2 linked regions of the Homo sapiens genome follow. The protein of the gene in region 1 purifies or fractionates together with the protein of each later gene. This does not show direct contact. Each region holds a gene or a part of one and is shown on either strand. Other genes may lie near its edges.

Region 1 (5,497 bases):
ATCAAGAGTTTCAAATTAGCTTGCTGAAGGTGACACACCTAGAAAGGCAGCAGACGTGAGTCTGCTGAGAGAGCATTAGAAGAAAAATACATAAATAAAGTCAGCAGATCTGGAACCTGAACCAGGCCTGTCTGACTGCAAAGTTGTGCTTAGAAGCTCTCTGCTTTACTGTTCCTCAGAATTCAGCTTTAGGCTTTGTTGATAAGGCCACAGATGTACCTTTACCTCAAAGTATCTACAGTCCAAACAACGCTAGGGCAAAACTGTCCTTAGCCTGTGGCATTCTTAGAAGGCAGCAGGAGGGTGAGCTGGAGAAGAAGATAGGCATGCCAGAAATATCCCAGAAATAAACCTGATTTACATGTCTTATTTTCTTCTCCTTTATCTGATAACTACTTTGTTTTTACCCTAATCCTTCAGGAAAGGCTTAGAGAGAATTCAGTGTTCAATTACAACTGCTGTCACAAACGCCCAGTATCTGGTAGCTTTACATCATAGTACAGTTATGCTTACTTGGGAAGACATATTTCTTCATATTAAATACAAATTAGTAAAATTTCATATTAAATACAAATGAATAAAATTATCTTTGTTTTCCTACACTCAGTGTTAGTTAGTATTTAACAGCTAAAGTATTAAGAGCAAAGGAGTTTCCAAACTTATGTTCTAAACCAAGTCAGGTCAGAGAATTCATATTAAATCATTCTATTTATGGGCAAATGTAGAAAGTTCTTTACATCGAGAATCAACCTAGAGAAGGTATGAGTTAGCTTTCTTCCTTTCTAAAACATTAGTTTCTGAGAATTGAAGATAAACGATTTTTTTTAATGAAATGCTTACAAATGTTTGGCTTTCATGCAACCCAGAGAATGAAGTGGTATTAATTTTCAATTTTGTTCACTCTTACATACCAGTGATATTCTTTGGATTAGAAACACATGGGATCCTGCCGCCTTCTTTTGTGTTTCTTCCCACTCTCCCGCTGGGCCTGGCCGGGACACCACATTCTGTAACCAGGGAACTGAAAACAGAAGAGCTTGTTCACAGCAGGCAAACAGCCTCAGGTCTTGTGCAGGGTTCAGACAGCTTAGCAGGGAGGCCGGGGAGGTTTACAGGAGCACCAGTGGAGACTACCTTTGTCTCAAAGCAGAAACTGATTCAGTAAAAAGTGGATTTGGGGTCAAAATGCGCGTGTTGATGTTCTAAAAAGTTAGAAGTTGCACACATTGCTCAAAAGAATCTAAGTATTAAAAAAGAGGTACCAGGCCACACCCGTGCTCTTTTTGATTCATCTGCACCTTTCCTCAGAGGCAGCTGGGCACTAGCGCAGCACAGCCTGCCGGTGAAATAGCAGCTCCATGCTGTTGAAGGTCTTATACTCCATACCAGCAATTCCTTCTTCTCACCTTCGGGGGCCGGTGATGTCTAAGCCTCATGATCTTTCTCTGCTTATAACTTCCCTATTTCTGTTCATGGCATCACTGCTCTTTCAGTCATCCTCATTGGAAATCTAAGAATAATTTTTAACTCCCTCTTTCCACCTGCCACTGGTTGACTAGTTGGCAAATCCAGTGAAGTCTGTCTTCAAATGTCTCCTCAAAGTTTCTTCCCACAGGTACCATCCTAGTCCATTCAGCCTTCCCACTACCAGTCAGATAGTGTGAAGCTGGATCTCATTGTGGTTTTTGCTTGTATTTTCCTAATTATTACTGAGGCTGAACATCTCATATATTTACTGGCCATTTGGGTTTTCCTCTGTAAATTGCTTAATTCTCTCCTTTGTTTTAATTTTGGGTTTTGTGTGTGTGTCATCGTAGGTGTGTTTTGTGGATTTGGGATGTCAGTTCTTTGTTTTATTCCTTTTTCTACCTCCCACTCCTGTTTTTCCATTTATCTTTGGTCCTGAGGGATACATGAGGAAGAAACAAAGCAAGAAAGTTGGGGAAGAAAGCAATGTCTCTTACGGGAACTGAAGTAAACACTTATTTTCTTAGTTCTGGAAGTGGAATTAATGGTGGAACAGTATAGTAGAAAGAGCATAAATGTTGGAGTCAGGCCTTTGTTCTTATCCCTGCTCCACTGCTTACTACCCACATAACTCATCCTGCTACTTCAGCTCCCTGGCCCTTGGTTTCATGTGTAAAGCCTGTCTTTGTGTGGTGTTGTATGGCTCAGGAGCAGGCATGCCTTTGCTGGCACTTACATATCAGATCCCCTTCCTCCTCACTCACCTGAGAACACCCATAGGACATCACAGACTGTTCCTCTAAAAAACAATATGTTCTTTCTTTTCGTCTGCAAGGTTTCTACTCCCATCACAGGGCTGGTTGTTGAGAATTCCTTGCTCTGAATTCTTTTTTTTTTCCTTCTTTGTTTTTTTTCCCAAGACAGAGTCTTGCTCTGTCACCCAGGCTGGAGTGCAGTGCCGCAATCTTGGCTCACTGCAACCCCCACCTTCCAGGTTCAAGCAATTCTCCTGCCTCAGCCTCCCAAGTAGCTGGGATTACAGGCATCTGCCACCACACCCAGCTAATTTGTATATTTTTTAGTAGAGACAGAGTTTCACCATGTTGGCCAGGCTGGTCTGGAACTCCTGACCTCGTGATCTGCCCACTTCATCCTCCCAAAGTGCTGGGATTACAGGCACAAGCCACAGCACCCGGCTTCTATGAATTCTTACAAGTTCCTTTATTCAACGGTCATTTACTGAGAACATTTTTGATGTCCAACATCGGACCCGTCTTAAGATCCAAACATCTGACGTGGTTGGTCTCTGTCCCTGTGAAATCCACAACCTTCTTGGAAATGTTAAATAATAATATCTAATTGGAGTAACAGGAGTGTTAAACATTATTATGTGGGATTTTTCTGATTAAAACCATCAAATGGGTTGTGTAAAGACCAATTTCCCATTGTCTTCTAATGCATTTGGGTCACACTGGTGTTGCCAGTTCCTTGTTCTTTTTCTTCCATCTCATTTATCTCAGTCTCTACTGACATTTTCATCTTTCTGCCATTCTCTCTTTTTTTTTTTTTAAGCCCTGTATTTCCTCATTTTAAAGTGGATTGTCAGCTGGACATGGTGGCTCACACCTGTAATCTCAACACTTTGGGAGGCTGAGACAGGAGGATCACTTGAGCCCAGGAGTTCTAGATCAGCCTGAGAAACATGATGAAACTCCATGTATACAAAAAGTGCAAAAATTAGCCAGGCATGATGGTGCACGCCTGAAGTCCCAGCTACTTGGGAGGCTGAGGTGGGAGGATCACTTGAGCCCAGGAAGTCAGGGCTGCAGTGAACCATGATCACGTCACTGCATTCCAGCCTGGGTGACAGAGCGAGACCCTTTCTTTTTCCCAAAGAAAAAGTGGATTGTCAGAGTTCTAGTCTATGAAAAAGCATCTATTTGCCTCACCTAAATTTAACCCTTTTGTAGCTTTTTATTCAAAGTGGAATAATATAGAATGCTATATAGACTATAACAAATATGCCCTTAATATACTCCATTCTATTTAATAATAGGAACTTCTTTTCTTTTATTTCAAGATACAAAATAACTTACAGAAGTTGCTTGAGAATGGTGACTGATCGACCAGATTGCTTGGGCCATCGGAATACCTCATGTTTCCCTTTGAAGAAGGTGCTTCCTGAGGCGTTTTGTTTGAGTGCACCCTGCTGGTCAGAGGTGCAAGCAGATGAGAATCCAGACATTGCATGTGGAGGTCTCCAGCTCAGGAAAGTGAGGAGGGAAATAATTTTGGTTCTTGTGCAATAAAAGTTGACCTTGACTCTCTGAGGAAGATTTTGCTGCTTTTGCCTGAAGAAAACAGACCCATCTCTGGAGGTCTCAGGAAGGGCCCAGCGAACACACTCTCTTGGATAATTACCACGATGGCGTCAGCAAACACTCCACCCTGTGCCTTTTTAGTCCTTCCCGCCCTCCTGCCTCTCCCTTACACCCCTCTTAACGACTTTCAAACTAAAGGATACATCATATACTGACAAACTCAATGTGGTCCTTTCAAGAATTAGCCATGAGTCTCAAAAAGGCAATAAATGGCTCTAAGTGGACAGGTTTGCTTCAAACAAGTAACATCTACATTTTGTCTTTTTTTTTTCAGTTCTCCTGTTATGTTCTGGTTGAAATCACCTGTGTGTCTTAATTTCTCAATTCCTTTTTGGCAAGAATATCAAGCAAGGTGAATTTAACATTATGTTTATGTTTTGTTTTGTTGCTGTAACTAATAGTTAATTGGACTGATTCTTACCCAGCCCTGGTCAAGAATCTGTGAGGCATGTGACTGAAGTACTAAATTAAACTTATTTTGAAACCAAACCTAATTTTTAAGCCAAAAGGTGTAATAGTGATTTAATACAGGATGAAAAACACTGAATTTTTAAGACTGTAGGTGGACTATGTTAGTAGTTTTCAAGCAGGATGTCTGTATTCAGCATTCAATAATGCTAAAATCCCTTTCAGCATGAAATTTGTATGTTTTTATCCTTTGCTGACTAAAATAAAATAACTGGTGGTTTGCTAACTATTTACCATATGGGTTGGCTGGTTTTTATTAATAATTGTTTAGGGTATCATAAGATCTGTAAGTACAAAGGATATTCTGTTTCTATCTGCAATGCATTTGATAATCATTTCTATGAAATGTATTTTATTTAATCAGATAAGCTAATAAGCGAATTGGTTACATCGTTTGTATCTGTTGGCCTAGTGGACAGCTGTGCCTGGTGCACCTCTGGCTTTTAATAAATACTCATTGGTTGAAACACCCTGCTAACACTGTGTTTTGTCAGTTCGTAAATTCCTTTAACCAAGACTTAACTATGCTTTTTAACTCTTTTTCCACCTGCCATCTACTACTACCAACTCACTTATACTTCCTTCCTCCCAAGTAATCATTTCAAAACTAAAAAAGGATTTAAGTTCTTGGGTTACAACGGTTTAAAGGAAAGAAAATGAACTTTGAAGTCAAAAAAAAAAGAAAAAAAAAAAAGACAATGCTTCATTCCTCAGTCCACATTTATGAGTTATGTGACCTTTAGCAAAATATTTGGCCATATCCCCCCATTTTATTGATGAGGTTGAAAGTACCAGTAAAAAGTATCAGTGTGAGGATTAAATGTGATAATGTCAGCCAGGTGCAGTGGCTCATGCCTATAATCCCAGCATTCTCGGAGGCCAAGGCAGGAGGACTGCTTGAGCTCAGGAGGTTGTGATCAGCCTGGACAACGCAGCAAGATCCCATTTCTACTAAAAATAAAAATAAATTAGCCAGGTGTGGTGATGCATGCCTATAGTCCCAGCTACTCAGGAGAATTGCTGAAGTCTGGGAGACTGAGGCTGCAGTGAGCCACGATCACACCATTGCACCCTAGCCTGAGTGACAAAGCAAGACCTTGTCTCAGTCAATCAATCAGTCAATGTGATGATGTCTCTAAAGCACATAGCCATGTCAGGCAAGTAGTATGCTTTCATAACAG
Region 2 (7,041 bases), on another chromosome or scaffold:
GTTACTCGTGATACCATGTTAATCAGTGAGAGGGTAAAGTTAGGATACCAACCTGTATCTATGTATGACCTTCAATTTTGTGTAAATATACACCTTATATGCACTTTTTAATACTGAAAGGAAATTCATAAACATATCAGCAAAGTTTAGCTCTGTTTTAGATGGAGAGAAGATGGCTAATTTTTATTCTTTGTTTAGATTCTTCTGTAATGAGCATTGTTACTTTTATATCAGAAAAATAGACATTTGCCATAAAATAAGTCTACCCTCAAATCTCTGATTTAAGACGACAATTGTCAGTCTTAGGAAAAGCCTGCTAAAGTTCAAAGCAGACTCAAAGAAAAAAGATTCAAATCTACACAGTGACTCTCTCCTGAAAAGGATGAGAAATCTTGTGTGACGCAGTCTGGCTTTTTCCTCTACTTTGCTGCTGGCTCTATTTTACTGCGCCTCACAGAAAGCTCCATGGGAAAACCCTTTCCCTAGCACCTTAAATGACCTTAAGTGTTTCTCACCTCTTGGCATGAGGATTAGAAGGAAAGAAAATGAAACAGCCCTACTCCCTTGTTTCAAAGGAAAAATTTTTCTTGCAAAGCTATCAAAATGACTTAAAATCAGCTATGCAAAATTTGAAACATAAGTCATGAGTTACGTTCAGTAACCAGTTGCTTTTTTCTCAAGAATGAATATAAAAACAAATCTATGAGTGCCCTCTTGTGGCAAGCCTGACTATTACCACAACCCAAGTACCAGCCTCTCCCTGTCTATTTCCACGGCTCTCCTCCACTCCTGGGCTCCGCATAACACAGCCAGGAGGCAGAGACCCCATAATAACCCACTACAGTGAATGCACATTCCTCAAAGTGGCTGGTACTATTTGTTTTCAAGGATTTCTAGTTTAGATCCCAGAAATGCCTGCCTGAAGACAAGTGGGAATGAAGGGTCAGAAGAGCAAGATGCAGGATGTGCACGTGGGTTCATGGGCTGCTACTGATGGCCGATGGTGACTGTGTCTGGTATATCCATGCACACATACCATGGCACTGCCAGGAGGCAGGGACCTGTAGGATAAATAGCCCCTCCCCTAGGAATGCCAGTTTTATAAAGTCGCGAAGTTTTACATTTACATCCAGTGAGCCTTGTGCTTACAAGTAGTTTTATTATTAATTTTAGAGTAAACATCACCAACTTGGGCACAATTCCAAAATAGAGCTCTTGTTGGATTCTGGTCATAAAATTCTTTTTTAAGCTTGTTAAGATCTTATAAAATAAGAAAGTTTTCCCAATACTTTAGAAAAATTACTAATCATTAATAAGTCGATTTTATACTCAAAGTAATGGCCTAACATTTTGAAAGATGAAACAACGCTCCTCTTTTGAACATCTAATGTATTAAGTAAGCTCAGTGTCCCAGGCTTCAGAGGAGACAGAGAAGTCCTCATATTGCAACCTGACCAGATGACTCTGGGAGTGAATTAAATGCTTAAAAGAGGTCAGTCTTGCAAATTCGATGAAGCACAGAATACAGGGGAACTGATACTGATTCTGATAAAAGATAACATTACTCTCAGAAAGGGGTGAAGCTAAAAATCTTGCAGTTCTGGGGCAGGAGGAGTGCAACAAGCAGGCAACAAACAGCATGAAAGGAAAAGCTGAGTGAATTTCAAAGTTCTATTGGGAGATGGAGTTTGTGGTTCTTTCTGCCCCACCCAGGTCAAAGGCTCATGTCCAGAAAAGGATTTCTCCCAGTGATAGGGTGGAAGTGTGTGGCAGGAAGTTGCTGTTTGGTCCTGGAAGTGTAAAGGAAAGCCTTTTCAAGTACGTGAAGTAGACTGAAGTGACCCAGATGGGATGGATCCCAACCACATGAGTTACGGGAGAGCATGAAGCCAAAGAAATGATAATTATGAAGTTGAATTGGGAAAATAAATTTGACTCCTTGTTCACTTCTCCAGCCTTTGGAAGAACTTTTTCTCCCCTCCTAACAGGACCGATATACTGGACAGCCCCTGTTAGAGATAAACCGAGGCACTAGACAAGGAAGAAATGCATTAAAAACATTTTTTTTAAGTCTTGACAAGTCACTTCTGGGAGAATTCTTCATTTTTCCTCTGCACAGGGACAGCAGAAGAGGGAGAGTAAAAATAAAGGCGAAGGCCTCTCTTGTCCACAAAAATGAGAGGAAAAAAGACCCTGCCCGTTTAAAATCCAAAACCATAAACTCTCCTTCAAACAATATCTTTGCTCCAGCAGAAGCATCCTGGGATTAGTCTAGGTTAGTATTCTGAGTTGTGTCACACAGGCTTTGACAATTAATGATGTACTAAAATGGGAAGAGGTGACTCTTCAACCTTGGCTCCAGCTTCCCACTTGTCCTAACTGGGAGGAAAGCAGCTATCAAGACAGCTGGATGGGAAGATCTTCCCCGAATTTCCGGAGCAGCTTCTGATGGTTGTGGTCCACTGACCACTGCTGGGGCAGGTGCTTGGGCTGCATGGAGTCCAGGAAGTGCTGACGCCAGCGGCTCTCCAGCTGCATGAGGGAGCGCAGGCCACCCTGGCTGTGACACTGCACCACCTTCAGCCCGTGAGGAACATAGTTTTCATTGGAGATTCTGCCAAAACATGAAAAACAAAGTGTCTGAGGGAAACAAGCGCAGGATGGCCTCACAGACAGCTTCAAATGCTGCGCGCCAAGGGTAACTGGGGAGGTTGAAGGACTCCTAAAGGGTTAGTTACTTTGGTGTTTTCGAAACATCCTCTTTCTTATCTCTGCCCTTTTTATAGTCTGAACATACGACTCGCAATCCCAACAGAAGGTATTTGAGGGTTCTGAGCTCTACTGACAGGAAGGCCACTTCATAATGTTCAGCTCCCACGAGAGGGGCACTACCATCCAGCTGATAATGGATGAAGAATGCTGGTCTTCCATTTCTTCCAGGATTACCCAGTGACCAGTTCACCCCTCTTTTAAGTTGTTCATTCTGGGACACAGTATTTATATGAGGCTGTTAAATCGGCCCGCATGTTACACTTTTTCACAACACAATTTAATAACTGAATGTCAAATGCAAGGTAGCATATTTCTTTAGAGCCTTTTTTCTCACAAAAAGATGCCAAGCCACAGTGGTGAGAAGTGTTTCGGTCACAGTGAAATGCTTCCATGGTTGCTCAGTTGTGCAAATGGTGCCATTAAATGAGAAGATGAATGCCTCCCTCCTTCCTAACTAAGCAGAGTCCTTAAAAAACTGCTCCGATGCTGTGTGAATGGTGCTTTCACCTCCTGTGAATAAAGATGACCTTCCTCAAGGAAGCACCCTGCCCACACACACTCTCCTCTCCCTACATCCATACCCCATGTTCAATCCTCCCTCCCAAGACACCCGCCACCCCAGCAGTGTTGGCGTCTCTGGGTATCTGCAGACACTTTATTATTAATATTTAGCTCATGCGCTTCCCACTAACTTGCCTGTCTCCAAACAACTGTTCTTCTCAGTCACAAGTCCAGCATTCATCTACCCAATTCAGCAAGATGAATTTGTTAGAAAAGTCTGTGGCCGAAAGGGGAGGTTTAGCTGCTTTAGAAAACATATTGGCAGCTGGGCGTGGTGGCTCATGCCTGTAATCCCAGCACTTTGGGAGGCCAAAGCAGGAGGATCACTTGAGGTCAGGAGTTCGAGACCAGCCTGACCAACGAGGTGAAACCCTGCCTCTACTAAAAATACAAAAATTAGCCGTGTGTGGTGGCACACACTTGTAATCCCAGCTACTTACAAAACAACATCTATTCTACAACCTCACAAAATAGTTATGGGGATAAAATTCTATAATTCTTTTAAAACCCTGAAAGATTTTTTAAATTTAAGATATAGTAGCAGTTAACCAGTAAGAAATCTAAATCCTACTTTGTCGGGTTGTCATGAGAAACAATTAAGGCAATTTATGTGAAGTTTATTAGCTGGTTTGCTGCAAGATATAGTATATCTATAAATAACTGTTCAATAAATATTTGCAGTATCTGTAATGGATCAGTAGTAATGGATAAGAGTAAAAAAATTTTTGTTTTCTAAAAAAATTAAATATTTGCTTATAATTGGAGTTACTTTTTTATTTTTCAGTTAACAAAAACCAGCATCACGCTCAAGGTTTTGTGAACTTATCAGTTCCCTTATTTCAACTCCTGGTCCTGTTGGAAAAAGTGACAGTTGGGAGGCAGAACTGCGCATGGTAGCCCAGAGCTCTTACCATCTGAGCCACGTGCCCATTCATTTCTCATTTCAGAATACTGCATTGTGTCACAAGAATTCAACTATGTACTCATGGAGAAGGAGGGAGAAAGCAAGGAAGGAAAAAAGAGAAAAGTAATTTACATAGTAACAGCAATTCTGCTCAACATTCCATTCAGTGAGCCGATACCCTGGAGTGCAGGTGAGATAGGAACCATGAATTCATTAGTCACAGTTCTCACAGACCTGTATAAAGTCGGAGACACAAAACCACACATAGAATTGGCCCTCCATCTTTGTGGGTTCTGCATCTGTGGATTCAAACCTCAGATCAAAATGATTTGGGGCCAGGCACAGTGGTTCATGCCTGTAATCCCAGTTCTTCCAAGGCAGGTGGATTGCTTGAGGTCAGGAATCTGAGACCAGCCTGGGCAGCCTGGTGAAACCCCATCTCTACAAAAAATACAAAGATTAGCTGGGTGTGGTGGTGCATGCTTGTAGTCCCAGCTACTTGGGAGGCTGAGGTGAGAGGATCACTTGAGCCTGGGAGGTGGAAGTTACAGTGAGCCAAGATAGTGCCACTGCACTCCAGCCTGGGTGACAGAGCCATATACTATCTCAAAAAAACAAAACAAAAAAACCACAAAACTATTTGGAAAAAAAAAAAAAAAAACTATCTGTACTATCTGTACCAAACATGTACAAACTTTTTTCTCATTACTTCATAAACAATAAAATATAAAAGCTACTTACATAGCATTTGCATTGTATTAGGTATTATAAGTAATTTACAGGTTATTTAAAGTATACAGGAGGATGTGTGCAGGATATATGCAAATACTATGCCATTGTATATCAGGCACTTAAGCATTGGTGGATTTTAGTATCCAAGGGAGGTCCTGGAACCAATCCCCCATGGATACTGAGGGGTGAATGTACTGTATCTCATGGGGAACTTCAGAACTTCGAGGGTGTTATTGGACTATTATTTCATCTCATGTGCTGGCATGAGGATTTACGTCTGCATAGAATGTGTAAGATGCAGCTCCACCACAACTGCACTCGCACGCTAATCACAAAAATGACCGAAATTAAGTGTATGATCTTTAAAAAGGTCAAAGATAGGCACCTCACAAAAGCAAGTTTCCTATGGAAAGGAACTCCTCAAGTAGATTGTTCTATTCCACTTCCAAGGTATCTTAAACTACTAGACACCTACTAGGTGAAGCATGAGGCTAGGCACTGTGCCTAAGCAGCCAATGCCCCCTCCCTGGCAAGCATTCTCACTAAGTAATGAGGGTTAATGTCCCTGGTACATTCCACAATTCCTGTGCTTTGTACCTGGTCTCCAGGCTGGCAGCCTCTTGAAGCATCTCCTCTGTGACCACGTCTGTGTTATAAAACTCTCTGAGTGCTTGCAGCAGCTCCTCCTTTCGCTGAGTAGGCAGGCTCTCCGCGTTGAGCAGGGCCCTGGCCCCAGAACGCACCTGCCGGCGCTCAGGATCTTCCAGCAGGCGCAAGCCCTCCTCAGAGCCGATGGGGGCCTGGAACTCCTTGGCCAGCTGCTGCTTCAGATGGTTGTCATAGTAGTTGGAAATGGCATGGCAGGAGGTGCAGAGCAGCAGCACATCGTGGGAGTTGTGGTCCTTCATCTCGATGGGGAAGTGCTTCCGGTACTCATGTGGAATCACGTTCTTCCTGGAACAAGCCCAGCCGGAAAGCAGCGCTCATAAGTGTATGACAGAGCACATGGGAAGACAGCAGACAGGCTACTGGGGTTCTAACTGGGGCCTAACCATGACTGAGAAGCCTTGGGCACCACCGCCCAACACAGATCACAGAAAGGCAGTATCACCTATTCCACTCTCAGCCCATCTGTGTCTTAGCTTCCTCTCTCCTGCAAGTAAGTACAGACCACCTGCTGTGGGCTTCAGTGGTGGGCCAGCATAGTGACAGGTTAATAACAACCTCTGAGAAGGCTGTGCTCCCAGAAGGGAAAGTCTCAGAGAACTGAAAAGATACTCTAATGGCCTTTGACAACTGGAAAACAACTCTCTCAAGAAGGCCTAGGAACCTGAAAAAGCCAATTTCCTTCATCTGAGGAATACCTTAATCTATTTCCCTGGTTCACCAGGTTCATCATTATTTTCTAAGGAGAACTAAGCTCTCAGGAAAAACTCTTGGCAGCAATGACTTTGTCTCACTTTGCAGGGGAGAAAGGAGGAAAGTGAGTGACTCCACAGAAGCCAGGGAGAAAGCCCAAGTGTCTGGGCACTCAGACGTAGTCGGCAGCCTCACCCTCACAGTGCAGGGGCCCTGATGTGAAACAGTATTACAACACAGAGCAGGCTTCAGGACATCTGGATACTCCATGAATAAAACCATGGCTCAAAAAGCTGGTCAGCCAGTCAAGAGAGGATGAGAGGGACACAGCTTCTGAAGGAACTGGTCTTCAGTCTTTCATGAGCAAAAGGGAACCACTGTCCCCATGACAGACCATTACTGAGTATGGTGTTGCACTCCAGAAACTGAGAAACGGCTCAGGAGGGGTAAGGGCCACTATAGCAAGGGCGGCAGAATACCAAAGCTCTTGGGGAAGCTGGATACTAGGAACAAGCCTCTCAGCCAAAGTGGACAGACTCAGCCACAGCCCCCAAAGGCTCTGCATATGGCTACAAAAGCAATTTCCATCTGCCACAGACAACCAGGGTGGCCCAATGCTGCACTCACCGAATGTAGGAGTCTCTCTTGCCACACACTACACACAGGTTCTCTTTAACCATCAAGTAATAGTCTCCAGGAGATTCGGGCCTTCC

Evidence for each region. The genes of interacting proteins can lie anywhere in the genome.
Region 2: the proteins of GRAMD2B (region 1) and EXD2 purify together in Homo sapiens (affinity purification with mass spectrometry; 3 studies listed by BioGRID and IntAct, with this or other methods). This does not show direct contact.

What each region holds. Positions count from the first base shown.
Region 1 is NC_000005.10:126,489,368-126,494,864, forward strand, and holds the end of GRAMD2B (GRAM domain-containing protein 2B), read left to right. Parts: intron 1-914; coding exon of another isoform or gene 915-917; exon of another isoform or gene 918-3,547; coding exon 3,548-3,589; 3' UTR 3,590-4,997; downstream 4,998-5,497.
Region 2 is NC_000014.9:69,236,457-69,243,497, reverse strand, and holds part of EXD2 (exonuclease 3'-5' domain-containing protein 2), read right to left. Parts: coding exon 6,956-7,041; intron 5,924-6,955; coding exon 5,567-5,923; intron 4,428-5,566; exon of another isoform or gene 4,281-4,427; intron 2,615-4,280; coding exon 2,398-2,614; 3' UTR 1-2,397. UniProt on the Homo sapiens protein: Exonuclease that has both 3'-5' exoribonuclease and exodeoxyribonuclease activities, depending on the divalent metal cation used as cofactor.